Linked DNA regions of Homo sapiens. The protein of the gene in region 1 purifies or fractionates together with the protein of each later gene. This does not show direct contact. Each region holds a gene or a part of one and is shown on either strand. Other genes may lie near its edges. The genes, in order: TMPRSS5, TUBB6, DECR2, BDH1, SLC25A14, CTBS and CLN6.

The links.
Region 2: the proteins of TMPRSS5 (region 1) and TUBB6 purify together in Homo sapiens (affinity purification with mass spectrometry; one large-scale study listed by BioGRID and IntAct). This does not show direct contact.
Region 3: the proteins of TMPRSS5 (region 1) and DECR2 purify together in Homo sapiens (affinity purification with mass spectrometry; one large-scale study listed by BioGRID and IntAct). This does not show direct contact.
Region 4: the proteins of TMPRSS5 (region 1) and BDH1 purify together in Homo sapiens (affinity purification with mass spectrometry, with the first as the bait; one large-scale study listed by BioGRID). This does not show direct contact.
Region 5: the proteins of TMPRSS5 (region 1) and SLC25A14 purify together in Homo sapiens (affinity purification with mass spectrometry; one large-scale study listed by BioGRID and IntAct). This does not show direct contact.
Region 6: the proteins of TMPRSS5 (region 1) and CTBS purify together in Homo sapiens (affinity purification with mass spectrometry; one large-scale study listed by BioGRID and IntAct). This does not show direct contact.
Region 7: the proteins of TMPRSS5 (region 1) and CLN6 purify together in Homo sapiens (affinity purification with mass spectrometry; one large-scale study listed by BioGRID and IntAct). This does not show direct contact.

What each region holds. Positions count from the first base shown.
Region 1 is NC_000011.10:113,695,541-113,699,808, reverse strand, and holds part of TMPRSS5 (transmembrane protease serine 5), read left to right. Parts: intron 1-115; coding exon 116-214; intron 215-781; coding exon 782-904; intron 905-2,390; coding exon 2,391-2,526; intron 2,527-2,837; coding exon 2,838-2,951; intron 2,952-4,268. UniProt on the Homo sapiens protein: May play a role in hearing.
Region 2 is NC_000018.10:12,317,660-12,321,927, forward strand, and holds part of TUBB6 (tubulin beta-6 chain), read left to right. Parts: intron 1-2,876; exon of another isoform or gene 2,877-3,003; coding exon of another isoform or gene 3,004-3,085; intron 3,086-4,268. UniProt on the Homo sapiens protein: Tubulin is the major constituent of microtubules, a cylinder consisting of laterally associated linear protofilaments composed of alpha- and beta-tubulin heterodimers.
Region 3 is NC_000016.10:407,617-411,884, reverse strand, and holds part of DECR2 (peroxisomal 2,4-dienoyl-CoA reductase [(3E)-enoyl-CoA-producing]), read right to left. Parts: intron 1,643-4,268; coding exon 1,518-1,642; intron 1,195-1,517; coding exon 1,101-1,194; intron 914-1,100; coding exon 809-913; intron 525-808; coding exon 307-524; intron 1-306.
Region 4 is NC_000003.12:197,552,999-197,557,847, forward strand, and holds the start of BDH1 (D-beta-hydroxybutyrate dehydrogenase, mitochondrial precursor), read right to left. Parts: upstream 2,971-4,849; 5' UTR 2,783-2,970; intron 2,510-2,782; exon of another isoform or gene 2,344-2,509; intron 1,716-2,343; 5' UTR 1,564-1,715; intron 1-1,563.
Region 5 is NC_000023.11:130,370,395-130,374,101, forward strand, and holds the end of SLC25A14 (brain mitochondrial carrier protein 1 isoform 1 precursor), read left to right. Parts: intron 1-1,169; coding exon 1,170-1,250; intron 1,251-2,514; coding exon 2,515-2,556; 3' UTR 2,557-2,963; downstream 2,964-3,707. UniProt on the Homo sapiens protein: Transports inorganic anions (sulfate, sulfite, thiosulfate and phosphate) and, to a lesser extent, a variety of dicarboxylates (e.g. malonate, malate and citramalate) and, even more so, aspartate and glutamate and tricarboxylates.
Region 6 is NC_000001.11:84,571,331-84,576,117, forward strand, and holds the start of CTBS (di-N-acetylchitobiase precursor), read right to left. Parts: upstream 3,111-4,787; 5' UTR 3,086-3,110; coding exon 2,909-3,085; intron 1-2,908. UniProt on the Homo sapiens protein: Involved in the degradation of asparagine-linked glycoproteins. Hydrolyze of N-acetyl-beta-D-glucosamine (1-4)N-acetylglucosamine chitobiose core from the reducing end of the bond, it requires prior cleavage by glycosylasparaginase.
Region 7 is NC_000015.10:68,205,724-68,209,610, reverse strand, and holds the end of CLN6 (ceroid-lipofuscinosis neuronal protein 6), read left to right. Parts: intron 1-1,200; coding exon 1,201-1,471; 3' UTR 1,472-2,619; downstream 2,620-3,887.

The DNA.
Region 1 (4,268 bases):
GGAGGTGTCCTGTTGGAGCTCTGTGGGTGCCTAGCCCCATAGTGGTGACTTAGGGTGAAGTAAGGCAGGCTGGCAGGAGCAGGGGACCCAGATACCCCTCTGCCCTTTCCCACAGTTTCTCAGGCAGTGTGCTGGCGTTCCATGCGACGTGGCTGTGCAGTGCTGGGAGCCCTGGGGCTGCTGGCCGGTGCAGGTGTTGGCTCATGGCTCCTAGGTCAGTGCTGGGGGCCTTTCTCTGGTGTGGGGGAGGTTGGAAGGGAGAAGCAGGTGCTGAGCAGGTGTTAAAGGTAAATGGGACAACTGTCTTCCTCAACTACTCTGTGCAGACAAGGGGAGAAAGGGTGAAATTGCAGCAGGAGGGATCTAGGCTCTACATAAAGAAGAACAAAGTGTATGATCCAAGGAGGCCGTAGTCAGACTTTTTCTGGAAATCTTTCCCAGTGAGAGAGACACAGAGAGAACACACACAGACAGAGACAGAGACATACTGAGAGACAGCTAGAGAGAGAGAGAGACAGAGAGAGAGAGAGAGAGAGGGAGAGAGAGAGAGAGAGAGAGAGAGAGAGAGAGAGAGAGAGAGAGAGAGAGAGAGAGAGACAGACAGACAAAGGAGAGTCAAAGAGGCAGAGATAGAGGCTGAGGCCGAGAGAGATGGAGCGCTATGCCCCTCCTCAGCAGGTTGGTTGGGGAGCTGCCTGAGAGCAAGGTGGCTGATGAGGAGGTCAGCACCTTGACACCTTCCTTTGGAAATCAGACCCTTTCTCTTTGTTCTTCTCTAAAGTGCTGTATCTGTGTCCTGCTGCCTCTCAGCCCATTTCCGGGACCTTGCAGGATGAGGAGATAACTTTGAGCTGCTCAGAGGCCAGCGCTGAGGAAGCTCTGCTCCCTGCACTTCCCAAAACAGGTGGGCTGCACCCCTAAGGCTACGGGCCTCCCTCCCCAGCAGGGACCTGTCACAGCTGAGGGCAAGAGAACCGACACTGAAGGGCCATCTGTTCACTGCCAACCATATGTGTTTCCCTCCTCTAGTGTGAGGGCAGTGACAAGGTGTCACCTTGCAGTGATCTCTGATTTGGGGCTTTCAGCACTGCCTGAGGACTGTCCTGATCTCTAGCTGGGGCAAGGTCCGGAGACCAGGCTGGCAGGAGGGATGGAAACTTGCCATTTGGGGCAGAGTGAGCCAGGGACATGGGGGAGGAGGGATCAGGTGTGTGTGTGTGGGAGCCAGTGTGTGACCAGCAGGGCCACCTAGGGACCTGGGAACATCAGCCCACCTCATCCCCACTCTCCCTCTCCTGATTGTCCCCTCCCCTCCAGGTAAGAGTTGGGGATCAGAAGGTACAATGCTGTCCAGAGGCTGGGGCTTAGAATAACCTCATTAGAATAAGGTTGGAGTCTGTCTTTGACTGTGTGACTTTGGGCACATTACTTCTTGTTGCTTCTGTTTCCTTCTCCATAAAATGGAAATATAAATATTTACTGCACAAATTGTTTAAGGATAAAACAAACTAATCTAAGAAAAGATATCAGCACAGAACTTGTGTAGTAGTCTGTTTGGTTTGCCATGACTAAGTACCACAGACCGGGTGGTTTAAACCACATTTATTTTCTCACCGTTCTGGTGGCTAGAAGTCCAAGATCAAGGTGCTGTGGAATTCGGTTTCAGGAGAGAGCTCTTTTCCTGGATTGTAGATGGCTGTCTTCTGCCTGTGTACTCCCCGGGCCTTTCCTCTGCTCTTGAGGAGAGAGGGAGCTCTCTGGTGTCTCTTCCTCTTCTTATAAGGACACTGGCTCTATTGGATCAGGGCGTCACCCTCGTGACCTCATTTAACCTTAATCACCTTCTTAAAGGCCCTGTCTCCAAATACAGTCACATTGAGGGTTGGGGCTTTAACATATGAATTTGTGTGTGTGTGTTTGGGGGCGGGGACATGAGTCAGTCCATAATAGCCTGGAAAAAGCATACACTCAACAACTGGTAATTATTATTATCACAAGATTTGAAATCAGAAGACCTGGATCTAAGTCCTGGATCCATCATTTCCTGACACTGTGATCTTGGGGAAGTTGCTTAAACTCCATGCCTTAGTTCTCCTTCTGCAGAATGGAGAGGATGGCAGTACTCATTGCACAGGGCTGCTGTGACAATGAATGGTAGACCACGCTTAAAAACACATGGTTAAAATAGAAAACTGAAATGCTCTACCAAAAGGGGTGATACTGCTCTTGGGACTGGTCTCACTCTCCGGGGAGCAGGGAACTTGGCACTGGGTGATCCAGATGCTGTCATTAAGGCCTCTTCAAGTACTACAGAATCCTGGGTCCAGCTCTTCCTGTCCCACCCTACCACCACCATCCTCTCCCATGTGGTTTTCATGCTGTGATTTCAGTATCTTTCAGAATAAACAGCGAAGACTTCTTGCTGGAAGCGCAAGTGAGGGATCAGCCACGCTGGCTCCTGGTCTGCCATGAGGGCTGGAGCCCCGCCCTGGGGCTGCAGATCTGCTGGAGCCTTGGGCATCTCAGGTAACAGGAGTTAGATGTGGGTCCTGTGAAGGGGGAGGCCTGGCTGGTGTGGGATGGGAATTGGAGACCTCTACCTGCCCGTCACTGGTCAATGTGCTCAGGAAATGTCAAGAGGTCTTTTTGGCCATCTTCTGGCCTCTGGGCACAATGGTGCCCCAGCCCATTTCTCTGTTTGGAGTATTACTGCTTTTTAACAAGCATAAACCCCAGCAGTAATCATTATCACAGTCTTGCGGTCACTATACTAGTATTATATCTCGTACATATTCCAGTTATGATTTCCTCCTGTTCTATTCCCTTCTTCTGCCAAGACTCACTCACCACAAGGGAGTAAACCTCACTGACATCAAACTCAACAGTTCCCAGGAGTTTGCTCAGCTCTCTCCTAGACTGGGAGGCTTCCTGGAGGAGGCGTGGCAGCCCAGGTAGGACTACTGAGGCTGTTAGGTGAGTGGGGTCCCTTACTTCCTGGTGGTCAATCCAGCAAAAATCTCCTTTCTTGGGATGCCGGTGGGGAGGACACTGGTGGCCTATGATAGGAGGACAAAGAGGAACATTTCCTAGTTAGAAATTACAAACTCAGTTCACATGAGCCCTGTCTGTCACCACTTCACATCTGCTATTTGCCCTTCACAAGAAATGTAGGGTTGGTTATTATTGTCACAAGATTTGACATGGTACTCATCACCATTTTACAGGTTAGGAAACTGAGGCTTAATAAGGTTAAAGAGTCTTGTCCAAGGTCACATAAGTAATAAGCAGCTAAGTCAAGCCTTGAAACCAGGCTCCTGTCTCCAAGCTAAGTGCTCTCTGAATCCTGCCACACATTATTTGGATAATTCGGATATTTCAGGAAAGAGATGGTTGAGTTGCTCTGGCTAAGAGTTGCTTGTAGTCTGGAGAGTCTCCTAGAGAAGAGGGCTGTGGAATGGAGCAGCCCCTTCCCCAGATCCTGGGGATGGTTTGGTATGACTGGGGCACAAGCGGAGAGGGTCTTTGTGCCTTCCTAGGCTTCCTCAATCTGCCTATCAGCCTCCTGGGATAGAAAGGTGGGCACCCCCATTACCACATTTCCAATTTGAACTGTTCCTTCAGGCCCCTCCTGTCCAGCTCCTGTGCTCAGGAATGTGGCTGGAGTTGGGAAGGTTCTGACAGGGTTCTTGTCTTGGATACCTGAATGGGAAAATGGAAGTAGGGGTGGGGCTGACTCCTCCAGGAGAGCCGGGAGGGCTATGGATTTGGGAAACTAGGAGAAACTAAGAGGGTCTAGACATTGGACTGCTAGGGGCAAGAGGTGAGTAAAGAAAGAGAAGAGAGTTTTGGTCAAAAAAGGAACTAAGAGCTAAGAGAGAAGAGGGGAAAGAGGAGAGCAAGAATATGAATATGCAAAGCCCAGGCAGAGGGACCAGGGTGGAGAATACAGCAAACCTAGGAAGGAGCATGGGGTGAAGAACCCTAGTCACCCACACACTCACCTATCCGTTCATTCATTCATTGAGTGTGTATTCATTCAGGACACTTAGTGGGAACAGTGTGGCTTTCTCATCTGTAAACACACTATGTCCCAGTTGATCTGCAAGGACCATGAAGTCCTTCTGTTGCCCTCTGGGAGACTAGGCAGGAGGTGTGCTCCTGTCCTGGGGACCACTGATGAGGAGGGGTCTGAGTGTTTGGGTGGGGGCAGGAAGGAAATGGTGGTATTCTTCAGGCTGTGGCTACATGACAGCCTTAAGAACTGTCCA
Region 2 (4,268 bases), on another chromosome or scaffold:
TTGACACTTATTCCATCACCCATTGTGAGCTTGAAACCAGAGGGGGGACTCAGAGAAAACCCTGGGGACCTGTTGCAGCCCCACTGCCAAAAAGCTTAGAGTTGGCAGCCTCCTGCTAACTGTCTGGAGTCACTGACTAACATCACACCGTATCAGTACAGAAGATGTTCAGTTCACAACTCCCAAATATTTAACTGGAACATCTGTTGCTATGAGACAGTGGCAAAATATTTTTCAGAAGTCACCAGCTTCCTCCTTTCATCAAGAGCACAGAAAACTTCATGGCTATTCATGCTATAAATATTGAGGAAGCTGGGTAAATGGTGTGAGCTGCAGAGGGAGTCAAGTTCAGCATCTCCGTCCACTTACAGCTAGCTCAGGTCTGATTGATTGGGGTTCTATGTTTGCCAAAAGCCACCTACTATTTTCAGTTGTTGGTTTCTGCTATTTTAATGAAATAGGTCCCAGGCTATTTTGACAGCTGCCCTGGGTCTTTCCTTTGTAAAATGTGACAGTTCTAGCACCGAGTGTGGACCAGCCCCGAGCTTGTTCCTCCCAATACCTATGTTGTAGTTTTGCCAGGTGCTGCCTGCTAGGTTGGGTGGGGAAGGGGTGGAGAGAAGTTGGTGGGGGCTTAGGAAGGACGGTGACCATTTTCTCGCCTACTAAGAGAAGGCAGTCAGCTAGGATTCACTGTGCAACACAGCTGGGCAGGAAGAAGAGAATCCCCTGTTTGTAAGAGAACAGTCACATACTAGATGCTGTCTACGGCTTGTGAAAAACACAAGGAAACGGCCACCTGAGAGTACTAAAGTGGCCAGGCCCACGGGGTGTGCTGCAAGCACACAGCAGGCATCTGCCTAGCCCGGCCCCTCTGCAGAGCCATAGGGCCTGCCATGCCAGTGACACTGGGCTTTGGACTGCCAAATGGGGCAAAGACAATAGGAGAGAAAGGCTGAGCTGATTTCTCAGTGGGACTGAGACGGAGATCTAGGGAGGCTGATGCTGCAGACAAGTGCAAGGGCCCTCTGTGGTCAGTTTCAGCTGGCCAGTTCTGCTCTCTGGAAACTTCAGTGTTCAATATTTAAATGTGTGGTTTTGTTTGTTTGTTTGTTTGAGATGGGGTCTCGCCTTGTCACCCAGGCTGGAGTGCAGTGGTGTGATCATAGCTCACTGTAGCCTCAAACTCCTGGGCTCAAGCAGTCCTCCCACTTCACCCTCCTGTGCTAGGATTGCAGGTGTGAGCTCCCATAGCTGGTCTTATACAAAAAAAAGTGTTTAATGTTTTCATGTCAAAGTTAAAACAAAGTGCTTGTACATGGTTTTTTCAAACAGTACACATAGATTGTGTATACAGTGCAGAAAGGGAAAGCTGTCATCCCTTCTACTGGTGGCCCCTGAGGTTTTATTCCCTAGGGGGATAACCGAGTGTGTAGACAGTTGTGCTGTGTCCTGCTGACATTTTTCCTTTTTCCTTTTTTTTTTTTTTCTTTTTTTTTTTGAGACGGAGTTTCGCTCTTGTTGCCCAGGCTGGAGTGCAATGGCGCAATCTCGGCTCACTGCAACCTCCACCTCCTGGGTTCAAGCAATTCTCCTGCCTCAGCCTCTGGAGTAGCTGGGATTACAGGCACCTGCCACCACACCCAGCTAATTTTTTGTATTTTTAGTAGAGATGGGGTTTCCCCATATTGGCCAGGCTGGTCTCGAACTCCTGACCTCAGGTGATCCTCCTGTCTCGGCCTCCCAAAAGTACTGGGATTACAGGTGTGAGCCACCGCGCCCGGCCCTGCTGACATTTTTCTGTGTCCATGTGCACCTAGGTGAGCACACAGAGCTGATTTTGTCTGGGGAAAATGGGATCCTGCTATACACACCATTTTGCAGCCTTTTGAAAAATTCATTAATGTATCTCAGACATCCTCCGTGACAGTCACAGTGCCTACCATTGTATATGTCATCATTTAGTAATTTCCCACTTACTGATGACATTTTAAAATTTTTCATTAAAGAAGAGCTGGGCTCAGGCGTTCACACCTGCCATCCCAGCACTTTGGGAGGCCAAGACAGGATGATCACTTGAGTTCAAAAGTTTAAGACCAACATGGACAACATAAGGGGACCCTCTCTACAAAATTTTTCTTTTTTTTGACGGAGTCTCACTCTGTCGCCCAGGGTGGAGTGCAGTGGTGCGATCTTAGCTCATTGCAAGCTCCACCTCCCGGGTTCACGCCATTCTCCTGCCTCAGCCTCCGGAGTAGCTGGGACTACAGGCGCCCGCCACCATGCCATGCTAATTTTTTTTATATTTTTGGTAGAGACGGGGTTTCACCATGTTAGCGAGGATGGTCTCAATCTCCTGACCTCGTGATCCACCCGCCTCGGCCTCCCAAAGTGCTAAGATTACAAGCGTGAGCCACCGTGCCCAGCCAAAAAAATGTTTTTTTAATTGTCCCAGCTACTCAGGAGGCTGAGGCAGGAGGATCCCTTGAGCCCAGGAGTTGGAGGCTGCAGTGGCTATGATTGCACCACTGCACTCCAGCCTGGGTAGCAGTGGAAGACCCCATTTCTAAAATAATAATAATAAAAAATTCCTTTTTTATACTTTAATATTCACTTATCATAAAATAAATGTTTTAGTTAAAATGTCATAAAGCTAGAAATGAACTCTCTTAGGACCCCATCCTTCAAAGACAACCTGTGCTTTCTTAATTGCATTGTAAATGTTTTAATAAAGTAATTTTTTTTTTCATTTTGCTAGCTAGCTAGGTAAAACATTTTCATGGTTTAGGACTTAAAAGGAACAAAAGGGTATATAGTGAAAAGTTGATCTCCTTCCTACCCCGAACTAGTGTTAAGATTCTTGAATGTCCTTTCAGGTATGTTCAGGCAGACGCATATATTTACACACATACAATGGAGCCAGCTGTATACACTGTTTAGTACCCTAGTGTTCCTCCCTGGCTCCCCAGCAACGTATTTTGAAGATCTTTCCATTTCACAAGTATGGCTGCCTCATTCCTGTTGATGGCTGATAGTATCCTCTGCAGAGATACCGCCGTGGATTTAACCAGTCTTCAGTTGATAGGTATTTGGGTTGTTCCCCTTTTTATTATTATAAATTGTTCCTCAGTAAACATTTGTATATATGTCATTTTGCACATGTATGGGTCTATCTAGAAAAACTTACAGAAGTGTAATTGCTGTGTCTAGGGGGATAATTTTGATAGCTGTAGCTCAGCTGTTCTACAGCCCACTGCCCTTGCTATCTCCAGTAGCTCCCGTGGGAAGTGGCCTTCCCCAAACCCTCAGCAGTGCAACTCAGGTGTTTGGATCTCTGTCAGTTTCACAGCAGAAAAATAGAATCTCCTTGTTTTAATTTGCGTTTCCCTTATGAGAAGGGTTTAGCATTATTTCCAGTACCTAAGCTATTGGAATTTCCTTTCCTGTGAGCTGTATGTTTATAGCCTTTGCCTGTTTTCCTAATGGCTGTTGTTTTTCTTACTGATTTAAGGACTTCTTTAGATATTGAAGGAGGGTATCCTTTATATGTGATATGAGTTATTAACAGTCCAGTACATACATTTTAACATTAAGTTCAGTACACTTAATGAAGAATCACAGAATTTGTTTTTTCTTGCACTGAACACCTACAGTGTGTAGCACTGATAAATGCTTCATCCCCCCCAAGAGTAGAGCCACTGTGTAAGGCTGCACTTGTTATGTACTGCAGAAGCCAGGGGTGCCATCAGTAGACCTCATTGTGAGCAGGCCCGTGTCCCAAATTGCATGGGAGCCCCTTGTCCACTAATTAAAGATTGACAAGTGAAAGGCAGCTTGCTTACCCGATGTAGCACTTGGCAGCTCTCAGAGGCAGCCTTGGTGGTTTCACTGCTTCATAGTTCAGTGCCCCCAGGGTGAGTGCAGCATCAGGGATGGACCTGCCCACGTGAAACCAGAGAGGCTGGTCTTTGGCAGTGGCTGTGAATTGTTGCCACCAGCCGTGTGTAGACAAAAGTCAAGTTGGAGTAAGTGGGGAGAGGTCTGTATAATGCAATGCAAGTTTTTATGACTTGAATTAGTTAAATCTGCAGCCCAAAATTTCATGAAAATAAATATTTAAAACATTTTATTAAAAATTAAATTGACAAAGTCATATTAGAAATTAGTATTTCAATTTTCCCAACTCTAAGTATACTGGAATAAATTGCCTTAAAGTGAAAGAGTGAGAGTGTATTTAGTAAGTCTTGGTTAAGCCTTTTTGGTTTACA
Region 3 (4,268 bases), on another chromosome or scaffold:
GGAGTTTCAGAACTTAGTAGCCGGCTGAGGACGGCTTCCCCCTAAAACACCTCGGCTGCCTCGGCCACCCAGCACCTGCCAGAAATGCCGGCAGAGGCCGAGGCCGCTACAGAAGAGCAAGTACACCAGCGCCCGCCTCCTGCTCAGCCCCACTGGGCAGCACCCATGTGTGGGCAGGCTGGCGCAGGGGCCGGGAGGATGGGGACAAAGGAGACGCCAGCCCCGTGGGTCCCGCAGAGACCTGCCCATGCAGTGACCAGCGTCCAAGGACACAGATGACCCCAAGAAGCGGGAGCAGTACCTCACCTAGAGCTTAGCAGAGAAGGATGCGAAATCCGGCAGCCCTTTGACACCGTTTGGGAACGTCAACCATGCCCCGCCATCGGCCACCAGCACGGCCCCCGTCACGTAGGAAGCCAGAGGGCTGGCCAGGTAGAGCACGCTGTGGGCGATCTCGGTCTTGTTCCCCAGCCTCTGCAGCGGGCTGGCAGTGACCTTGGTGCTCAGGCTGGCCTGAGGGCCACCTGGAGGGCAGCAGAAGGCTCAGGCCCCGTGAGCCCCAAGACCCAGCACCCTCCCCTCTCCCCCAGCTCATTCCCTGAGAGGCATCTGGGAACAGCAAGGACACAGTCAGTGTCACCAAGGCCTAGCATGGAGCAGGATCAGGCCAGGCACAGAACATAGTTGCCACCATGGAACCAGCACAGGGCTTTTCAACATACACCCTGCCAAGGTTCTGGAAGCTTCATGGGCACCCTGTGCCCCAGGAGAGGATCTGTGGGAGGCCTGGGCTCCCTGAGAGCCTTACCCAGTCGCCGGAGCCCCTCTGTGCCACTGATGGGGCCAGGGGCGAGGCTGTTGACGCGGATGTTTTGGGGACCCCACTCCACAGCCAAGTGCCGCGTCATCGCGTCTGCACAGAAGAAAGTTGGATATGAAAGGGCCGCTCTGCCCTCTGCGAGGGCGCAGGGCCAAGGCCAGGTCTCGCTGCCTGCAGCTGGGCTCAGCTTCAAGTGGAGACTGCTGGCCTCCTGGGATGGAAGCAGACGGCCCATTGGGGACCCACGTGGGCAAACCTGGGCGGGGGGGGGTGGTCATACCCACAGCGGCCTTGGCGGAGCCTGCATGCACCTGGAGCGCCTGCCCCCGGTTCCCCAGGGTGGCAGTGATGTTCACGATCACCCCTCCGTGGTCCTGCAACACACAAGGCCCGGGGCAGTGAGCGGGCGGGTGTCGGGGGAGGTCACAGGACAGTGAGCGGGTGGCTGTCAGGGGGAGGCCCGGGGCAGGGAGCGGGCGGCCGTCAGGGGGAGGCCCAGGGCAGGGAGCGGGCGGCCGTCATGGGGAGGCCCAGGGCAGGGAGCGGGCGGCCGTCAGGGGGAGGCCCCCGCTGGGAGTACACCCACCCGGAAGAACTTCTCACAGAGCGCACAAGGCACCCACCCGGAAGAACTTCTCACAGAGCGCACGAGGCACCCACCCGGAAGAACTTCTCACAGAGCGCACGAGGCACCCACCCGGAAGAACTTCTCATAGAGCACACGAGACACATTGAAGGTGCCGCTGGTATCGATGTCCATCACGGTCTTGAAGGCGTTGAAGGACAAGGCGCCAGCGGGGCACAGGAAGTTCCCGGCCGCACCTGCAGAATGGGAGACCGCAGGAGCTGCTGGAGCCTGGGGAGAGGGATGCCAAGTGGGTGGTGGCCAGGTGGGCAGAGCGGAGGGTGCAGGAGGGAGCCCAGGTGCCCTGTGGCACAGGGAGGAGACCCATGCCCTAGGATAAATTCCAAAATGACCAGAGCAAGACGGGCGTCCTGGCTGCACTGTGTCCCCGAGAAGAGAAGACATGCTGAAGCCCTGGCTCCGTACCTGCGACTGTGGCCTTGTTTGGAAATGGGGTGGGTTGCAGAGATAATCGAATTACACTGAAGTCACAACGAATTAGGGTGAGCCCTAAATCCAATGACCAGCATCCTTATAACAAGGGAAGAGGACACACAGACACACGCCACGGGAAGACAGTGGCAGACAGTGCAGCGACGGTCTCCGAGCCCGGGAGGGCCAAGGGCTATGGCAGTACCCGAAGCCACGCAGAAGGCAGGAAGAGGCTCTCCCCTGGGGCCTTCAGAGAGCATAGCTCTGCCGACGCCTTCCCCTTGGACGTTCTGGCCTCCAGAACTGGGAGATTATATTTCGGTTGTTTTACCCACACAGGTCGTAGTACTCTGTTAGCCCAGGAAACTAATACACAGGATGTTTTTAAAAGGGAATTTCTGCAGAGTGAAACCAGTGTTGGTTCATCAATTGTAACAAACGCAAGATGTTAACAGGGAAAACTGTAGGTGGGAGTATGGAATTCCATATACTATTAATTATTCTATAAACCTAAAACTGTGATTTAAAAAAAAAAATCGGCCAGGCGTGGTGGCTCACGCCTGTAATCCCAGCACTTTGGGAGGCTGAGGCGGGCGGATCACGAGGTCAGGAGATCGAGACCATCCTGGCTAACATGGTGAAACCCCATCTCTAGTAAAAATACAAAAAGTTAGCCAGGCGTGGTGGCAGGCACCTGTAGTCCCAGCTACTGGGGGACTGAGGCAGGAGAATGGCATGAACCCGGGAGGCGGAGCTTGCAGTGAGCCAAGATTGCGCCACTGCACTCCAGCCTGGGCGACACAGCAAGACTCTCTCAAAAAATAAAAATAAAAATCAATAAAAATAAAAAATAAAGAAATAAAAATAAAAGCTGGGGGCCAGGCGCGGCGGCTCACGCCTGTAATCCCAGCACTTTCGGAAGCCAAGGCGGGCGGATCACCTGAGATCAAGAGTTCGAGACCAGTCTAAACAATATGATGAAACCCCATCTCTATTAAAAATACAAAAATTAGCCAGGTGTGGTAGCGGGCGCCTGTAATCCCAGCTACTTGGGAGGCTGAGACGGGAGAATTGCTTGAACCCGGGAGGCGGAGGGTGCTGTAAGCTGAGATTGTACCATGGTACTCCAGCCTGGGCAACAAGAGCGAAACTCCCTCTAAAAAAAAAAAAAAAGCTAGGCCAGGCTAGCTTCTATTTTATTGATGACTCTTGCTTGTAATCCCAGCATTTTGGGAGGCCAAGGCAGGAAGATTGCTTGAGCCTAGGAGTTTGAGACTGGCCTGAGCAACACACACTAAGACCCTGTCTCTACAAAAAATAAAAAATATAAAAATTAGCCAGGCGTGATGGCACACGTCTGTAGTCCCAGCTCCTCAGGAGGCTGGGGCAGGAGGATGGCTTGAGCCCAGAAGGTGGAGGCTGCAGTAAGCCATGATCACACCAGCCTGGGTGACAGAGTGAGATGCTGTCTAAAAAAAAAAAAAAGGCTATTACTTTTTTTTTTAAAGACGGAATTTCAGGACACAAGGGCACCCGACTCTACCATTGAGCTGTGTTCATGGCGTCCACTTGGGCTGCAGCTGTGCTGACCTGCTGCCACCCAGAGAAGCGGAGTCAGGCCGGAGACAGAGGGCCAGAGACAGAAGGCGGGACACAAAGGCCTGGAGACAGAGGGCCAGAGACAGAGGGCCAGAGACAGAAGCCCGGAGACAGGGGGCCGGAGATGGGGCCGGAGACAGAGGCCCAGAGACAGGGGGCCGGAGACAGAGGCCCGGAGACAGAGGCCCGGAGACAGGGGGCCGGAGACAGGGGGCCGGAGACAGAGGCCCGGAGACAGAGGCCCGGAGACAGGGGGCCGGAGACAGAGGCCCGGAGACAGGGGCCCGGAGACAGAGGTCCGGAGACAGGGGGCTGGAGACAGGGGCCCGGAGACAGGGGCCCGGAGACAGAGGGCCGGAGACAGAGGCCCGGAGACAGGGGCCCGGAGACAGGGGGCCGGAGACAGAGGCCCGGAGACAGGGGCCCGGAGACAGGGGGCCGGAGACAGAGGCCTGGAGACAGGGGCCCGGAGACAGGGGGCCGGAGATGGGGCCGGAGACAGAGGCCCGGAGACAGGGGGCCGGAGATGGGGCCGGAGAGAGACGCCCGGAGACAGAGGCCCAGAGACAGGGGGCCGGAGATGCGGCCGAAGACAGAGGCCCGGAGACAGAGCCCGGAGACAGAGGCCCGGAGACAGGGGCCCGGAGACAGGGGGCCGGAGATGGGGCCGGAGACAGGGGGCCGGAGCCTGAGTCTTGGCCTCAGGTACCTGGATGGGGTGCAGCCCACCCCAGCACAGGCAGCTAGGTTCCCTGGCATGGTCCCCACCCCATGACCAGAGTTCTAGGGCCT
Region 4 (4,849 bases), on another chromosome or scaffold:
CCTCCACCTCTCAGGTTCAAGCAATCCTCCTGCCTCAGCCTCCCAAGTAACTGGGGTTACAAGCATGCACCGCCATGCCTGGCTAATTTTTGTATTTTTAGTAGAGACGGAGTTTCACCATGTTGGCCCGGCTGGTCTCAAACTCCTAACCTCAAATGATCTGCCCACCTCGGCCTCCCAAAGTGCTGAGATTACAGGTGTGTGCCACCACGCCTGGCTGGTACATAATTAAATGAATTAAGAGAGTTTTGGCTGGGTGTGGTGGCTCACGCCTGTAATCCCAGCACTTTGGGAGGCCGAGGTGGGCAGATCACGAGGTCAAGAGATCGAGACCATCCTGGCCAACATGGTGAAACCCCGTCTCTACTAAAAATACAAAAATTAGCTGGGTGTGGTCGCTCGCGCCTGTAGTCCCAGCTACTTGGGAGGCTGAGGCAGGAGAATTACTTGAACCCAGGAGGTGGAGATTGCAGTGAGCCGAGATCACGCCACTGCACTCCAGCCTGGCAACAGAGCAAGACTCTGTCTCAAAAAAAAAAAAAAAAAAAGAAGAGTTTTAAGAAGAGGAGTGCCATTATCAGACTTACATTTTTAAAAAGGTAACTCTCACTGGGTTAATAAGTTGAGGATGGACTAGAGCAGAAGCAGGGAGACCCATTAGGATCTGTGGCAGTAATCCAGGGCCACCATGTGCAGTCATGAGGGTTGTATATTGCACCACTGCAGTGAGATGTGAAAACGTGTTCCTTAGAAATGTACACCAGCCTTGGTGAAAACCATGGAACTGATTAGAATTGGTAAGTCTGGCTTTATATTGAAGGTAGAGTCCGCTACCATTTACCAACAGATTGAGTGTAGGATATGAAAGAAGGAAGAATCAAAGCCATTTCCAAGATGTTTGGTCTAGGTGTAACAAATGACAGTAGTGCAAATGATTAAGCAGCCTTTCTATTCACAAGTGCTTACTGCATTTCAAACCCGAGGACACAAGCTGAGCCCCCGAGTCCTCACCTGGCTCCTCCAAACCGTATCTCCAACTATACTTTTCTCCTCTACTCATTCAACCGTTTGCTACACCATCCCTCAACAAGCCCTGTACTTTCCAATTTTCGAGCCTTGCTCATCCTATACCAAACTGACTGCATCTGACCAAGTCCTAGCTGGTTCAGATAACTCTCCCGAGCAGCCTTTTCTAATCCCCTAATTCAAAAATCTTTCGCCCAATCTCCTCCCTTCTGTGCCTCTGTAACTGCACCTACCTAGCCAGGGTCGTATTCGAGGGATTTCTGTTTATAAACATTCACAAGCCCCCATCCTACCACCAATCCCCACCCGGACTGTGAGCACCCTACAGACAAGACCCAAATGTTGAATCACTCTCTTCTTGCTCCTCCGAATATTTATTGTGTGACGCCTGACAGGAAGTAGAGGCTCTGTAAATGTGTATTGAGTGAATATGAAAGCTTCACAAATTTCAAGGGTCAGCTTCCTTGGCGGCCAGGGATATATACGCCCTATGCAGAGCCCGGCTCCAACGCCTCTTGTAGAAAGAAGGACACTGACCAGGACATTTGCAGCGTCACAAAAGATCCTGTCAGCGCGAGGCCTGCAGGCGGCCCTCCATAGTGAAATATGTGCTTCTGCAACCCCTCAAAGTAGGAACTGCAGGGTGACTCTGCATCAGCTGACTACAGGCAGATTTCCAGGCTGACTGGCTGGAAAAGAAAAAAAAAAAACGCGGAGTTCGACGCCGCGCGCAGCACCAAACACTTCCCCAGAAGGGCGCAGCCTGGAGGCGGCCGCGCGCAGGACGCACGCCCAAGGCGCCTGGGCCGCTAGGGACCGACCGGAGCGCTCAAACCCACAGGGTATCTATCAGGCGCGCGTCAGCACGTAAGCAGAGCGCGAGAACGCCCGAGACGGCGGCGCAGCCAATCCCAGAGCAGCGCTCCCCAACGGCCGGCCGGAGGGCGGGGAGAGAGGGGGGCTCGGCCAGAGCCACGCTTCCCATTGGTTGAGACAGCACCGCCCAGCCAAAGCCCCCTTGTCCTCGCGCGGGTGCGCCGCCTGGACTCCCACCCTGGCCAGTCCCGGGCCCACCACCACTCTGGCATCCCCAGCCTGTCCCCGCGGCTCCTCCTCCTTCCCCGGCCCTGTGGCCTGCCTGCTGTCCAGCATTCTTCCCCAGGGCGCTGTGGCGCGGAGGGAGGACTCCCCAAACCCCGGGAACAGAGCCTTGCGGAGGACCCCGGAGGAGGAGGAGGAGGAGGGACGCGGACGGGACTGGGAGATTCGGTCGGGAAGGGGACAGGGCCTAGAGCCCGGGGCTAGAAGGCAGGACACCTGGCTTCGGTCTGGGCTCGGCCTTTGACTACGACGTGACCTTGAGGACGGTTCCTTCCCTTCGTGGGGCCTGGGTCCCCTTCAGTAAGATGCGCCGGCAGGAAACGATGAGTCGTTTCACCTGGGAGCTGCAGGGCCGCGTGTTTAACCCAGGGCCTCCTCCTGCCTGGCACATTATTCCGAATAATAAATGCCAGATCATGCTGCTGGAGACGCCGGCAGAAAAGCCGAGAGGGAGACTCCCTGGGGTCTGGGCGCGATCGGCCATCCTACCCTTACCCCGCTGCGGCCGCAGGGCTCGGCCTGTAGGGCGCGAGCCCCCCTTCCCCACCCGTATCCCGGCTTCGGAGCTAAAGGAACACGTGAGGCCGAACCAAACCGAGTAGAGGGCGCCAGGGAATCCCGCCCGAGCTGCAGAGACGCGGACCCCTCCTCTTACCCAAAACCAAATGGGCAGGGGGCTCCGCTGCAGAGGGCTCGCCGAGGCTCTCGCCTTCACCCGGCGCCGCGCAGGTGCCCGCTCTCCTGCGGGGAGAGCCGAGGGGGGGCGCTGCCGCAGGGTCTTTCTGGAAGCCCCTCCACCAGCACTCCTGCGGCCTGCGGCCTCCGCCACCCGGACGCTTCTACACGCGAAGCGCGCGCTGGGGCTACGCTGGGCGGGGCTCACGGCGGCGTGGCTGTCGGGGGGCCGCCGAGCCGCCTCCTCCGCGCTGGGTGCCCGGCTGGCGCTCCTCCCGCCCAAGGTGCCCTGATCGCTAGGCTCCCGGTGCGGCCGTCTCGCCCCTAAGCCGGGCGCCAGATCCCCCGCCGCCTTCTCGCTCCCCGACCGCTGGGCGGGGGCGAGGGCCAGGGAGATGGAGCCAGGTGCGGAAAGGGTTGCAGCCTCGCGGGCTGAGGCCGGAGGGTGAAGGCGCCGCTCCTTGAAGTGAGGAAAACTCCGGTGAGGAAGAGGCTCTTTCCAGGTCCTGTGCGTGTTGCTGTCTTTAGAGCTCATTAGGGTTGGTTGGTTTTTAAATTTCTTTTGATCAGATGAATTTATTTAAAGGCCGGGGGCGGTGGCTCACGCCTGTAATTCCAGCACTTTGGGAGGCTGAGGCAGGTGGATCACTTGGGGTCAGGAGTTCGAGACCAGCCTGGCCAACATGGTGAAAACCAGTCTCTACTAAAAATACAAAAGTTAGCAGGGCGCGGTGGCGCACGCCTGTAATCCCAGCTACTCGGGAGGCTGAGGCAGGAGAATCGCTTGAACCCAGGAGGCGGAGGTTCCAGTGAGCCGAGATTGCACCATTGCACTCTAGCCTGGGCGACAGAGTGCTCCGTCTCACAAAAACAAAAAAATTAAAGATTTGCTTCTCAGGGTCTTTAAAAATAAATTAAGAATAGCAGTTTCCCAGAGTTTTAATAATAGAACAACGGAGGGCCATCGGCCACAGATAAGGGTTTCCTCCCAACCCCACCCCACTGCGCTATCGCCCTGCGCCAGCACACCTCAGTTTCCAGGATGAGAAACAGGCTGAGGAGAGAAGACACCAGGACACATTAGTGGCGAAGCTACGCGAAAGGAAAATAAACCTTGGGGCCCCCAAATCACTAGGCTAAAGGGGAAAGTCAAGCTGGGAACGGCTTAGGGCCAACCTGCCCCCATTCTACTCAAAATCACCCCCTGCTCACTGAGATAAATGCATATCTGATTCCCCCTTTGGAGAGGCTCATCAGAAACTCGAAAGAATGCGACCATTTGTCTCTCATCTACCTATAACCTGGGGGCTCCCTCCTTGCTTCGAGTTGTCCCACCTTTCCAGACTGAGCCAATGTTCATCTTACATATGTTGATTGATGTCTCATGTCTCCCTAAAATGTATAAAACCGAGCTGTGTCCCAACCACCTTAGGCACATGTCAGGACTTCCTGAGGCCATTTCACTTGCGTGCATTCTTAACTTTGGGAAAATAAACTTCCTAAATTGATCTGGCTCAGATTTTGGGGGTTCACAACTATGTTTAGGTAAAGTACAGAGAAGGAATGAATAGAATGAAGAGAATGAATGAAACTTGCAAATACAGGAAGATGAAAACAGGAGGAGGGAAGTACTGGCATGATGAAGATTTAAAGAAAACTGTAGACCGGGTGCGGTGGCTCACGCCTATAATCCCAGCACTGTAGGAGGCTGAGGCGGGTGGATCACTTTAGGCCAGGAGTTTGAGACCAGCCTGGCCAATGTGGTGAAACCCTGCCCTTCGTAGTGGATGCTTGTAATCCCAGCTAGGTGGGAGGCTGAGGCAGAAGAATTGCTTAAGCCTGGGAGGCAGAGGTTGCAGTGAGCTGAGATGGTGCCACTGCATTCCAGCCTGGGCAACAGTGGGAGACTGTCTCAAAAAACAAACAAACAAATAAAACTGTTGGCTCTGTCTGTCCATTCTGTGAGCTTCTGGAGAGCTAAGGCTATCTCCTTTATCCCCAGCTCCTGGCACATACAGCCTTGAAGACTGGGAGAATCAGGAAGGGA
Region 5 (3,707 bases), on another chromosome or scaffold:
TCTAACACAATGCCTAACACACTGTAGTTATGTAATAGATATTTGTCCATTATATACGAACCATTTCTGCTGGCTAAATTCAGCACGTGCCACCAGTTTACAACGTTTATGCATAATTTATCATTTAATTCTCATAACCATGTATATAAGACCCCTGTTGTATAAAGTAGGAAACCAAAACTCAAAACACTTCACATTTTTCTTCATGTAATCCTCAAAGCATTCACATGAGGTAGGCTATGGCATTATATAGAATTTATAATGATGAAACAGACTCAGAGAAGAATAATGACTTGCCCAACTTTCTATTTTCTTACCCTGCTTTAGTTCTCTTTGTGGCACTTATTTTTGGATATAATATATATCAATTTGTGTATTTGTCAGCCCCACTAGAATATGCACTCCATGAGGGTAGAAACTGCTGTATAGGTTACCTATTGCTGTGTAACAAATTACTCCAAAACTCATTGCCTTAAACCATTTGTTATTTTGCAGTTTCTGTGGGCCAGGGATTGCAAAGCAGCTTAGCTGAGTTGATTCTGGCTTAGGCTGTCTCCTGAGGTTGTAGTTCATATGGCAACTAGGGTTGCTGCCATCTAAAGCCTTGACAGGCTGGGATAGCTGCTTCAGTGATCACTCATGCAGTTGTTGGCTGGAGCCCTCAGTTCCTCACCATGTAGTCCTCTCTTCATGATATAGCAGATGGTTTCCTCTAGAGTGAATGAATCCAAGAGAGAATAAGGCAGATGCTTTATTATATATAAAATATATTTTATAACCTAGCTATGGAAGTGACATATGTTCACTACTACCATATTCTGTTGGTGACACAGACCAAATACTATGGGGTGGAGGCTACGCAAGGGTACAAATAACTGGAGGTAGGGTTCATTGGGGGCCATCTTGGAGGCTGGCTACCATAGACACTTTTTCTGTCTTGTTTATTAGTATATTCTCAACATCAAGAATGGTGCTTTGCATATGTATGGTAGGTAAATATTTATTGATTAAGTGGGTGGATGGATTTAGACTACAGATGAATTTAAAATGGACCTTTAGAGAAAAGACTATTCATGGAGCCATAAGTTGCCCTGGGGTGGGAGTGGAAGGTGATGTCAAATGTAGAGAAAGGTGAATTCACTCTGTTTTTGGTTATATCTTTCCTGCAGATGTGGAAACATGAGGGCTTTTTTGCACTCTATAAAGGATTTTGGCCAAACTGGCTTCGGCTTGGACCCTGGAACATCATTGTATCCTTTGAGAGAATGAAAGCAAGTGCTTCAAGCTCCCAGATAATTCTAGGCTATGGGAAGGAAAATTTGATTATTAAAGCCTTTTAGGCTAGTGAGAAACTCAAGCATCCCATTGGTGACCCTTGAGAATCAAATTAAGCAAAGAAACAGCTTTCAGTTGGAGGCTAATACAAACTAAAAGGGATAGAAAAGATATGTCAAACTTTACTCTTTAAAACAAAATGACAACAAACACAGCTAATCTGGAAGGGGCTATGAAGTTTTTAGAAACCCTGATGGACGAAGCCTACAGGAAAGTCCATGCTGAGGTGGTTCAGATTTCCTACCCCTAACTATAGGACCAAAATAGCTGGGAAATAAAAACAGGACAGAAGACATTCATGGGGTGAAGGAATCCACAGCCAAGCAGGCTTCTTTCTTCATGGGTGAATCTGTCTCCTCCAGTTGTGTTTGAGTGCCTCCTAAGTGCAGAGCCATGTATTGGATACTGTGTGTGGTGTTGTGTGTATAATGGTAAGCACCGCAGGGTTGGAAAGTAATTCTCTGCCCTTGTGGGGTCTGTAGACAGAGAGAGGGTATCTCGTTCCCTCTTGGAATCACTCTGATCATCTAATTAATTATATGTCGTCACTGATGTTCTTGGTTACTGTGTGTGTGTGCGTGTGTGCGTTTGTCCTGTTTCCCCCTGAAGACTATAAATATATTAGAGTTTTACTCTGTTTATGTTGTTCGATGCCAGTGATCTGAATGGGCACATGGTAGGCACTCAATGCATGCTTGATTTGACAGGTGGTGTTTTATTTATTTATTTATTTATTTTTATTTTTTTTTTTGAGATGGAGTCTTGCTCTCTCGCCCAGGCTGGAGTGCAGTGGCGCGATCTCGGCTCACTGCAAACTCCACCTCCTGAGTTCACGCCATTCTCCTGCCTCAGCCTCCCGAGTAGCTGGGACTACAGGCACCCGCCACCACACCCGGCTAATTTTTTGTATTTTTAGTAGAGACAGGGTTTCACCATGTCAGCCAGGATGGTCTCGATCTCCTGACCTCGTGATCCACCCACCTCGGCCTCTCAAAGTGCTGGGATTACAGGCGTGAGCCACCGCGCCCGGCTGTCAGGTGGTGTTTTAGAAAAGATTTTAAAGCAGATGCAGCTTGGAATAGCATAGACTACCTTAATTTAAGAGAATGCGATGCTAATTTTAGAACTAGCTTTGGCTTTCGATATCAACCTGGTGATCTTCCTTGACTTACTCCTCAGTTTTTTATTACATACGAGCAGCTAAAGAGGCTTCAAATCTAAGAACTGAATTATATGTGAGCCCAGCCCTGCCAGCCTTTCTACTCCTTTGCCCTTTTCCCGTGTTCTAATGTATTTTGACAATGTTGTAAGTGTTTACCAAGCCGTTGGTCTCCTAAGGGCCTCCTGATGGAAGAACAGTGGGGTGGTTCAAAGTTATTTCTATGTTTGTGTTACCATGTTAACTTTTCCCCGAGAGAAAGTGTTAACATTGAGACTCTGGCCCCAGATTGGTATCTTCTATGAAGATGGATACTGATGGGTGACATTGAAAACGGCCTGCTTTCCAAATGTGGTTAAATGTAATTGGTTAGCCCCAGACTTGGGCTAGAGCAGAAGGCATAGGCCAGGGTGGTTATTGCTATATGTGTTACAGACCTCGGTTCTCATTAAAGTATTTATTGGCAGAATCACTTTGGCTTTGTCTTCATTTACTATTTTCTCCTTTGCCAACTCTTGAAGTTACATTCTCCAGAGAATAATAAAGGAAGATAACTATGAAATTGAGACTGGACTCTTAAAGTGCACTTTTATGAGACGAGAATGAGTGCATTGTGCTTTCCCACTGCCATTCATTGTCATAATGCCACTGCTAAACGTTGGGCAGGTGGTTCTTTCTTAAACATGAATAAACAAGCAAGTGGCTCATTTGGAAGTTCCTACAGGTAAAAAGCTAAAAAAAGGCTTAAAATAGAAGCCTGTTCCCAGGGTTCTAATCATCTTACAGGTACAAAGTTCTGGCTACTTTTTTTGTACTGAAACAGAGCCCGGCTCATTGTAGGCACTCAAATATTTGTGGAATTAATAGTTCTTCATCTTTATCCATTCATTAATTTGTTCAACATTTATTATGTATCTATTATGTCTAGGACTATAAAATGACTAAGACATAGTGTCTGTTTTCAAGCTCACATCATAGTGGAAGAACAGATTTGTAAGTAAATAATTACAGTAGGACCTAAGTACTATGTGAGAGATGAACAAAATGCTGTGTGGGAGCACAGAGGAGGAACAGCCTTACCTAGAGGATTTGCCAAAGGCTTCATAGCACAAATGACACTCGAGGTGAGACAGAGGAAGAGTCTATGTCACCATGAGGATAAGGCATTATACATTTTGACAAATGTGTAATATGTATCTATCATTATAGAATC
Region 6 (4,787 bases), on another chromosome or scaffold:
AAAATTGACAGGACTTTGTGACTAATCGAATGAGTAATCAAAGGAGAGAAGTCTGATAATACTCAAGTTTCTGGCTACTGCAGATGGAGCCATAAATACATTTACTGTTTTTTGTTTGTTTGGTGAAGCTAGCTTCTTAGAATAGTACCTAGGTCAAATTCTAAGGCACCTGATGTTGTGTTTCTCTGATATTTTCTTCCCACAGTTAATTCAAGAAGCACAGAAGCCTCACTGATTATTTTTATTTTATTCCAAGGCATTAATTCATTGATTTGGCAAATATTTATTGAATTTCCAATAAGGTACAAGGAGAGTATTTTGCTAGGCTCTAAGGAGATAAAGATTAATGAGAGAGACCAGGTCCAGTAAGGAGTTAACTACTTAATTACAATGGTATTAAGGACTGTAGGGGTTACAGGGGGCCACGCCAGCATATAAAGGGGACCTGCTAGCCAGATGGTGCACGAAAACTTTTCTGAGGACTACACACTTTCGGAGTGGGCTGAAATCAGCAGAATGATGGAAGAGATATACCTATGGACAAAAGATTGCATTCTCAACTGAGGGAAGGGAAAGCCCAAAGGTCGCTACACCTCAGGAGAATTCTGAGATTCTGGAACTGAAAAAGGTCAATGTAGGTAGAGCACAGAAATCCTGCAAGTATGTGGAACTGGATAAAACCTTTAAAGTCGGTAGTGGAAAGATTAAGTAGGACTTCCAAGACCACTGAAGATGTTGTATTTTATCTTGGGATCAGTGGGAATCAATTAGAGTTTTAATTCAGGGGATATGCATTACAAAAGAGATCACTGGGTCCTTGTGAGGGGAATGAATGAGGGAGAGACAGTGGGGATAGCAGCTGTAAAAGTTAAACCAGGCATTTCTTAATTTTTTTTAATTTTTTTTAACTTTTCAGAATTAATTATGCATAACTCATTTTTTCTGCTAAGCAATTGCCTACTGAAATAATAAAAATTCATAATGTGAAATTAAGTGGCCCATTGTTTTCTGACTCATATTTCTATCAAAACTTCTATTTTAGTTCTGATAATTAAGATTCTATTTGTTTAAAAAATACTAAGAGCCTGTGATATAACAGATATCCTTAAAAAAAAAAAAAGCTGGGTGAACTAATTGAAAATATAAGGGGAAAATGCCATGTAGTCTAGTTTTTGTGTTTGAAAAACATAGAAAACGCCAGTAGAGAAAAAGACCATTTACCATGAAGATACAAATAAGCATAATTTTGCTTCTTTGAATAGTTGGTTTTCAAAGTGCCCACAGATATTGCCTAACCCACTAAGTATTGGGTACTACAGTAAATCTTTCAGGTTTTTTTTTTTTCTCTTTTTTGAGACATAGTCTTGCTCTGTCGCCCAGGCTGGAGTGCAGTGGCGTGATCTTGGCTAACTGCAACCTTCCGCCTCCCGCTCCGCCTCCCAGGTTCAAGCGGTTCTCCTGCCTCAGCCTCCCAAGTAGTTCGGATTACATGTGCCCGCCACCACGCCCAGCTAATTTTTGTATTTTTAGTAGAGACGGGGTTTCACCATGTTGGCCAGGCTGTTCTCGAATTCCTGACCTCAAGTGATCCACCCACCTTGGCCTCACAAAGTGCTTCTCAATCTCAAAAAGAGATTGAGAAAATTAAGAAATGTCTGGTTGAACTTTTACAGCTACTGTCCCCACTGCCTCTACCACCGCGCTGGGCCTCAGATTGTATAAAACATTTTAATTGGGAGGCCATTATGCTGAAACAGCTCCAACTGCCTTGGATTTCCTGCTTAAGCAAACTCCAGCCCAAGGTCAACAGTGAAAGGAAACTTAAGCTTAACCTATCAGAAACTGCCAACTAACCTCTAACTAGTAATTTTCCACCAAGTCATAGCTAAATAAGGCAAACAGTCATAGCCAACCAAGTAATTATTTTCCTTTGCTTCCCTGTTCGGCCTATAAAAGCCCATGCTACTAAAGCAGACCTCTCTGAACCCCTTCTGGTTTAAGTACTGCCGATTCATAAGTTGTTCTTTGCTCAAATAAAAAAGGTTATCCTACTTTGTCTGAAGTCTTTCTTTTAATAAGATGTTAGGTTTCCACACTAGGCAGGTTCTCCATAAACACTTTCACCATTTTTATTTCTTCTCCTAAGTCATGTATATATACTTTTTTACTGGCATCTAAGTGTTCTGCCTCAGATTAATGTACTAGATTAAGAACTAGGAATCATGCCTATTTCTACAAAAGAATCGTTCTTTGAATTAAGCCTTTGGACCTTCCTGATGTCATCCAATTCCTGCTTTCAGTCATCGAAGTGGGCAGTCAGGTGGTTTTAATATTGCTCCAGAAGGTGTTTGATTAAAGTTGCCAGAAGCCTTACAAATTGTTATGTAGATAGAAGGAAAATGTACTGAAAGCTATTTTTTTTACCACTCTTCATGGGTGGTTTTGAGGTACTTTAAAGGAAAGGGCTAGCAGGTATAGAAAACTAAAGGTAAGCAAAATACTCTGCATTCTAATGTACTGTTGGAGTGCTGAGATTCTTTCAAACGAAATCCTCGTTCCTTGGAAACATAAATGGATTATCCTACCTTGTTTGCTTTTTACACCCAGAGTGCTTCCGCAGAGGCACAGCAGGGGAATGAAAGGAGCTTGCCTTAGGAGGCAGATCTGGTTTGAACTCTCGCCTGCCTACGCAGGCACTTACAGGCTGTGAGGCCTGAGGAGTTACTCAACTTCTCTGAGCCCGAGCTTCCTCATCTATAAATTGAAGGATCCGTAAACAGGAAGGCCCTCATCGAGTGGTCAAAGCTGGTTTCGGCGCCCACGGCACCTCTCCTTAGGGCTCCGTTCTACCCTAACTTCTCTTCGTGCCCTGAAGCCCAGACCTAGAGGAGCAGAGGAAGGCGCTGACCTCGAAATCTGGATGGTGGCGAATCGGGCGGCAGAGCTCAGGCTCCGGGCATGGGCAGTCGGTCCCGGCCGCGAGCCGCAGCGCCAGCAGCGCCAGCAGCGCCAGCAGCGCTAGACCCGGGACGCCGCTCGGCGGGCTAGAGACGAGGCGCCAGCGTCGAAGCTGCGGCCGGGACATAGCAGCAGGTCTAGCGGGCCGGAGTGGGTTCCTACCGCCTGGGTGGGCGGGGCCTGCTGCGCGTCGGGGCAGGAAGGGGCGGGGAGAGTCGGGAAGGGCGGGGAGGGGCGGGAGGGGCGGGGCTCCGGGGCGGGCGTGGGAGGTCGGGCTTCGAGCGTCCCCGGGCGCTACAGGTGGGTGAAGTTAAGTGGCTGCTGGAGCGTCTCGGGGGACAGCCAGTGTCTGCGGCGCCGAGAGGGCCGTTCGTGGACTCAAATGGGTATCACCCCTACCGTTTATAGTCCTCCCAATAGTCTGCATCTCGTTTTGTCGTGGCTGGTCGTGTACTCCTTGTGGAGTCTGAAGGTACAAGGGGATCCCCAAAATGGAGAAGTGGGTGTCTTTGGAAGGGCCTACTGAGTAACATGGTTGGAGTGGCCAAAAGACTTTGTTTTTCTTTTGCTACTCAAAAGAAAGCTGGAATACCAAAAATTTTTACTTACGGATATCAGGTCTTAGTTAAGATCGTGGTTTGAATTCAAGCATCTAATTTTGCCTACTCTCCTGTTAAAAATCAAGTTTAACAACCTAAACACAAGGACAAAGAGATAACAGCAACAAAATGTTGGAAGCTGGAGAGCACAAGTATGAGTATGAGAGGTAAATCGGAAAAGGGGGAGATTAGTCAAAGGCTGCTCAAGGACTCTGATCGCTAGATCCTTTTTCCAGCTTCATGTCTCTGGGCAGCTGCCCCTCTTTCCCACCACGGGCTCCCACCCCGGCTGAATTCCCTGAAGGGGATAAATTCTCTGCTGAGTGGGTATTCCACCTAAAACGGAGAATAAGTGGCTTTATGCCTACTGAAAACTGAAACCCCTCGCTATCTGATTAACCTAAGAGGCTGAGCAAAGATACTGACATCGGGTTTTCTGGACAAATCATACACCCAGATCACCCTACAGTGAAATTCAAAGTTAAAAGCACCAGCTATCTACTTGGAGCTTCCTCTCTTTGTACTTTTTAATTTTTACTTTTAATCATGGACAGCAACCAAAAAAATCCAATAATGTAGAAAGAAGGGACCCAAACAACAGACAAAGGAATATGGAGGAAGCAGATGCTGCAGGGAGAACACTTTTAAAAATTCTCATAATAGCCCCAGAAAAATAAGAGAAGATGAAGCCACAACAGGGTGCAATAAAAGGGGTAGGGGATTTTTAAAAGTTAATAGAAATAAGAAAGAAGTGAAAAAACTATTAGTAGAAGATAACACTGAGGAATGTAGAGCAAAAACTCTGAAAGATAAGAAAATTGGAAAACGCAGTACAGAGGGGATGAAATAAATAATTCTTAAAGGTGCTTGAGAAGCAGCGTAGTACAAATAAGAAGAAATAAGTAATTTGGGCTGGGCACAGTGGTTCATGCTTGTAATCCCGGCACTGTGGGAGGCCGAGGTGGGCAGATCACTTGAGCTCAGGAGTTTGAGACCAGCCTGGCCAACATTGTGAAACCCCATCTCTACTAAAAATACAAAAATTATCTGGGCATGGTGGCAGACACCTGTAATCCCAGCTACTCGGAAGGCTGAGGCAGGAGAATCGCTTGAACCTGGGAGGTGGAGGTTGCAGAGATCACACCACTGCACTCCAGCCTCAGCAACAGAGTGAGACTCTGTCTCCAAAAAAAAAAAAAAAAAAGAAAAGAAAAGAAATAAGTAATTATC
Region 7 (3,887 bases), on another chromosome or scaffold:
AGGCAGGGGCACTGAGAGAGCCACGGCAGCAAAATTCTGCACTTGCCAATGGACCTGCTGTGTGGCCCCAGGGAGACTGGCCCTCTTTGGGCCCGTGCTTCTTCTTGTGTCTAGTGGGGACTGTGACAATGCCCTGTGGTGGCCTCTTTGTTTCCATGAAGCCCAGGCCTGGGTGTGGCAGGGAGGTGGGAGGAGAGGGCGAGGTTGCACAGTCTGTCTCCATCCTCAAGCCCCTCTCGCTCTGTGCCCCATCTCAAGAACCCCAGTGTTGCCCTGGGGCCGGTACAATCCACCTCCGACACCAAGCCCTGTAGTGGGCTGCGGTTTCCACCTCTGTGAAGTGGGGATGATGGTACCTGCCTGTCTGCCTCTCAGATGATGAGGATGCTGAGGACAGAGAGGGGCTTTGTCAAATGTAAAGCACTATGGCGAGGCCAGACTGGGGGGTTTCATGGCGTAGGGGCTTCTGGCCTTGGGTCTTTGTTCCCTCTGGCTCTCTCTTCTTCCCATTGCAGAGGACTTAGGCCTCAGCCAGTCTCCTAGCCCTCGTCTGTCACTTCTGCCCTGGAGACAGGTCACCCTGGGATTGTGGGTATCATGGGAAGGACAGGGTCGGGGCAGGACTGGACCCTTCTCTGATGGGAGGCCTCCCTCAAAATGAAAAGGGCCTCCTTTCCTGGGCCAGCTCTAGATCCTCTCCCCGGCCTGTCCCCTATGTGGCTGAGATGGCCCACTGGGGCTCATCTGTATGCTCTCTGGGGATTAAAAAGAATGGGTGGCAGCTACAGTGAGCGGGAAAGACGTTAGGGGAGCGCTTCCTGCTGGTTCTTACCCCGGCATCCTGCCGCGGGGGTGGCTGCCGTCGTAATGGCAATTGTTTGTTGCTTTCTCCTCTAGTCAGTTTTTGTTGTGTGGAAGTATAAACTTAATGTGACCAGAGAAGCCAGAAATATACATTTGTAGGTATTCTGTTATTTAAATATTGGCAACAAACTCAACATTTAAAAAACAGTAACTATACCAGCTAAATCAATATGCTGCCCATGGGCTGTGGCTTAGAGCGGCATAGTTCTCTGAGCCCTGGCACCAGAGGACTCTTCTGCCTGCCTGGAGGGCAGCCTGGCTCTCGCACACAGGAAGGGATGCCAGGCAGGACGGGGTTGCCACGGCAGCTGCCTCACTCACCCCTGGCCTTTCCAGGTACCTGGTCACCGAGGGCCAGATCTTCATCCTCTTCATCTTCACCTTCTTCGCCATGCTGGCCCTCGTCCTGCACCAGAAGCGCAAGCGCCTCTTCCTGGACAGCAACGGCCTCTTCCTCTTCTCCTCCTTCGCACTGACCCTCTTGCTTGTGGCGCTCTGGGTCGCCTGGCTGTGGAATGACCCTGTTCTCAGGAAGAAGTACCCGGGTGTCATCTACGTCCCTGAGCCCTGGGCTTTCTACACCCTTCACGTCAGCAGTCGGCACTGAGTCCCTGGCACCAGGCTCTGGCGCTCTGCTGGGTGGGAGGGTGGGCCATGGAGGGCATCTGAATACAGGAGTAGGGGGGGTGTGGGTGTGTAACCAGAGACCGAGAGCATGAGTGGGGTGTGCCTCGTGTGCGTGGATTCGTGTGTGTGTGTGTGTGTGTCTTGTATATGTGTGCGCAGAGTGCATCATTTTCAGACTCTACTATTTCCGTCAAGTTTCTGTTTGATTTGGATCATCTCAGGATCGGATTCTGTTTTAGAGTGTTTCTGGGCCAGGATCCGGGCCCCTGCCCTCCTCTGCACCTGACCACACTCCCTACTCAGGGCTAGTCTGTTCTTCCCGGACATCTTCTGGTAGCCGTGCAGGAGAGGGCTGGGTGGGGCAGAGGCCAGGAGGGGACCTGGTGTGTCACCTGCCCACCACCTGGCTCATCCCTCAGGCCCACCCTGACCCTACATTACATAGGTTACGTCAGCCTACTGTGGCTGTTGAGCAAAGCATTTCTCCTTTCTGGGCCTCATTTGCACTAGATGGGCCTGTGGTCCCAAAGTAGGTCAGTAGGTTGGGGTTGCTGACACCCCTTGGGTGCAGCTTTGGGACAGATGAGTGGCTCTGTCCTGTCACTGCCCTCTCCCTGCCTGGGGGCTATGTGCACTCCAGACCCCTGCCCAGGCTCAGGCCCATGAGGTATGGAGACACCCTGGCCCCCAGGAGCTGGAGGCACCGCCCACTCCCCTGGCATTCCAGCTTTGCAGGTGACCCTCCTCTACCCAAAGCTCTGTCCCCCTGCTCCCACTCCAGAAGAACTGCGGCACGCGCTTCGGGCAGCCTAGCCACAGGCTTTGAGCGCCTGCATTCCTGGGGGCTGGAGGGTGGGGTGCCAAAGGCCCTGAGCAAAAGCCAGAGCTCCTCTCATCAAAGCCTTTACAAGGTGCTGGGCCCAGAGGCTTTGCCTTGACAGAGTGGCCCAGGGTTTCAAGGGAGGAGGAACCTCCCCCTACCTAGGACCCTTCCTGTGGGGGGTCTACAGAGTCAGGGACAGAAGGGAAGGGACCCACAGGAAGTCACAGTGGTGCCCAGGGATGTGTCAGCCCCCAGCCACGGGGACGCGGGATTCAAGAATGAAGTAAATACAGTCACAGCCCCAAGTGGTGTTAGAGGTGTTTTTTGTCTTTTCTCCCTTTCGTGCTGAGGTGTAGCACACACGGTGCGCCCTACAGCATGGTGAGTTGCTGTATCGTGAACCCTCACGCAGCCATTGCCCCACGCTGGTGTTTTCCATCTGTGCGTCACCCCCGGAGACACCTACACACATAAGGAGGGAGTTGGCCGGGGCACCCCAGCACACACTGGCCTAACTCCAAGGAGGCACCTCATCTCTTCTGGAGCCCCTTCCCACAGGCAAGGGGATTCAGAGGGAGCATGTTGGCCTGGCCGCCTTCAGGCTTCCAGAGTCCCAAGTGACTTTCCTTGATGTCCTTCTCTCCATCCTCTGCACAGAGGCAGCCTTCCCTCCTCTTATCCCTGCCATGGGGTTTGGGAGGGGGAGCCTCAAACTCTGACAGGGAGGAGTCGGAGTCCCCAGCTAAAATTCTCTGGGTCTAGAAACAGGTGTAAAGCGATTCTGGGGATGTGATTTGGGAGAAAAGCACACTTTCCACACAGAGGCGGTCAGGAAAGGAGCGGGGAGGGGAGAGTGGGGCACAGGCAGCGCCTCCCGTCTATGCGCCTGTGTGCAAAGTGGCACAATGCCCCCCTTCCTATTGGCAGTGCAGCCCCTGGCCAGCAACCACTCGCACCTGGGCTGGGGGCCTTTGTGTAGGGCACACCTGTGCAGCCACACCTACTTGTAGAGCCTCATAGACTCAGCTGTGGACAAAAGCCTCACGCCCCAAACAGGGAAATGGGATCTCAAGGGGAAGAAGCTGGGGAGGCCTCACACCCTGCCCCCATTTCCTCCTATGTGGGGGAGGGGAGCAGCACGAACTCCTGAAGACTTGGGAGCGTCAGCAGCTTCTGCGGAAGGGGTGGGGCTGAGGGTGGAGAGAGGAAGGGAAGGAAGAAAAGGGGAGCCTTCCTGGCCAGGGTAACCGGCACTAAGAGGCCTCACTCCAAGCCCCCGAGGAGCCTGTGGTGGGGCTGGAGACCCGGCTCAGGCCCCTCCACCACCCTTAAAGTCCTCAGAAGGTGGGAACTGAACTGGCACAGGATGGGAACCGGCTGTGCGCTGGCCACTTGATTTTGCCAGCTGCCCTGTAATTCAGCTGGTGAGGAAACTGAGGCACAGACTGAGGTAGAATGATTCGCCAGTCACTCAGCAAGTCAGCAGACGGGGAGGACTGAATCCCAGCCTGAGAGCACCGAAGCTTGTATCCCTGCAATACCGAGCCCCAAGCCTGCGAGCCCCGGTGCCCAT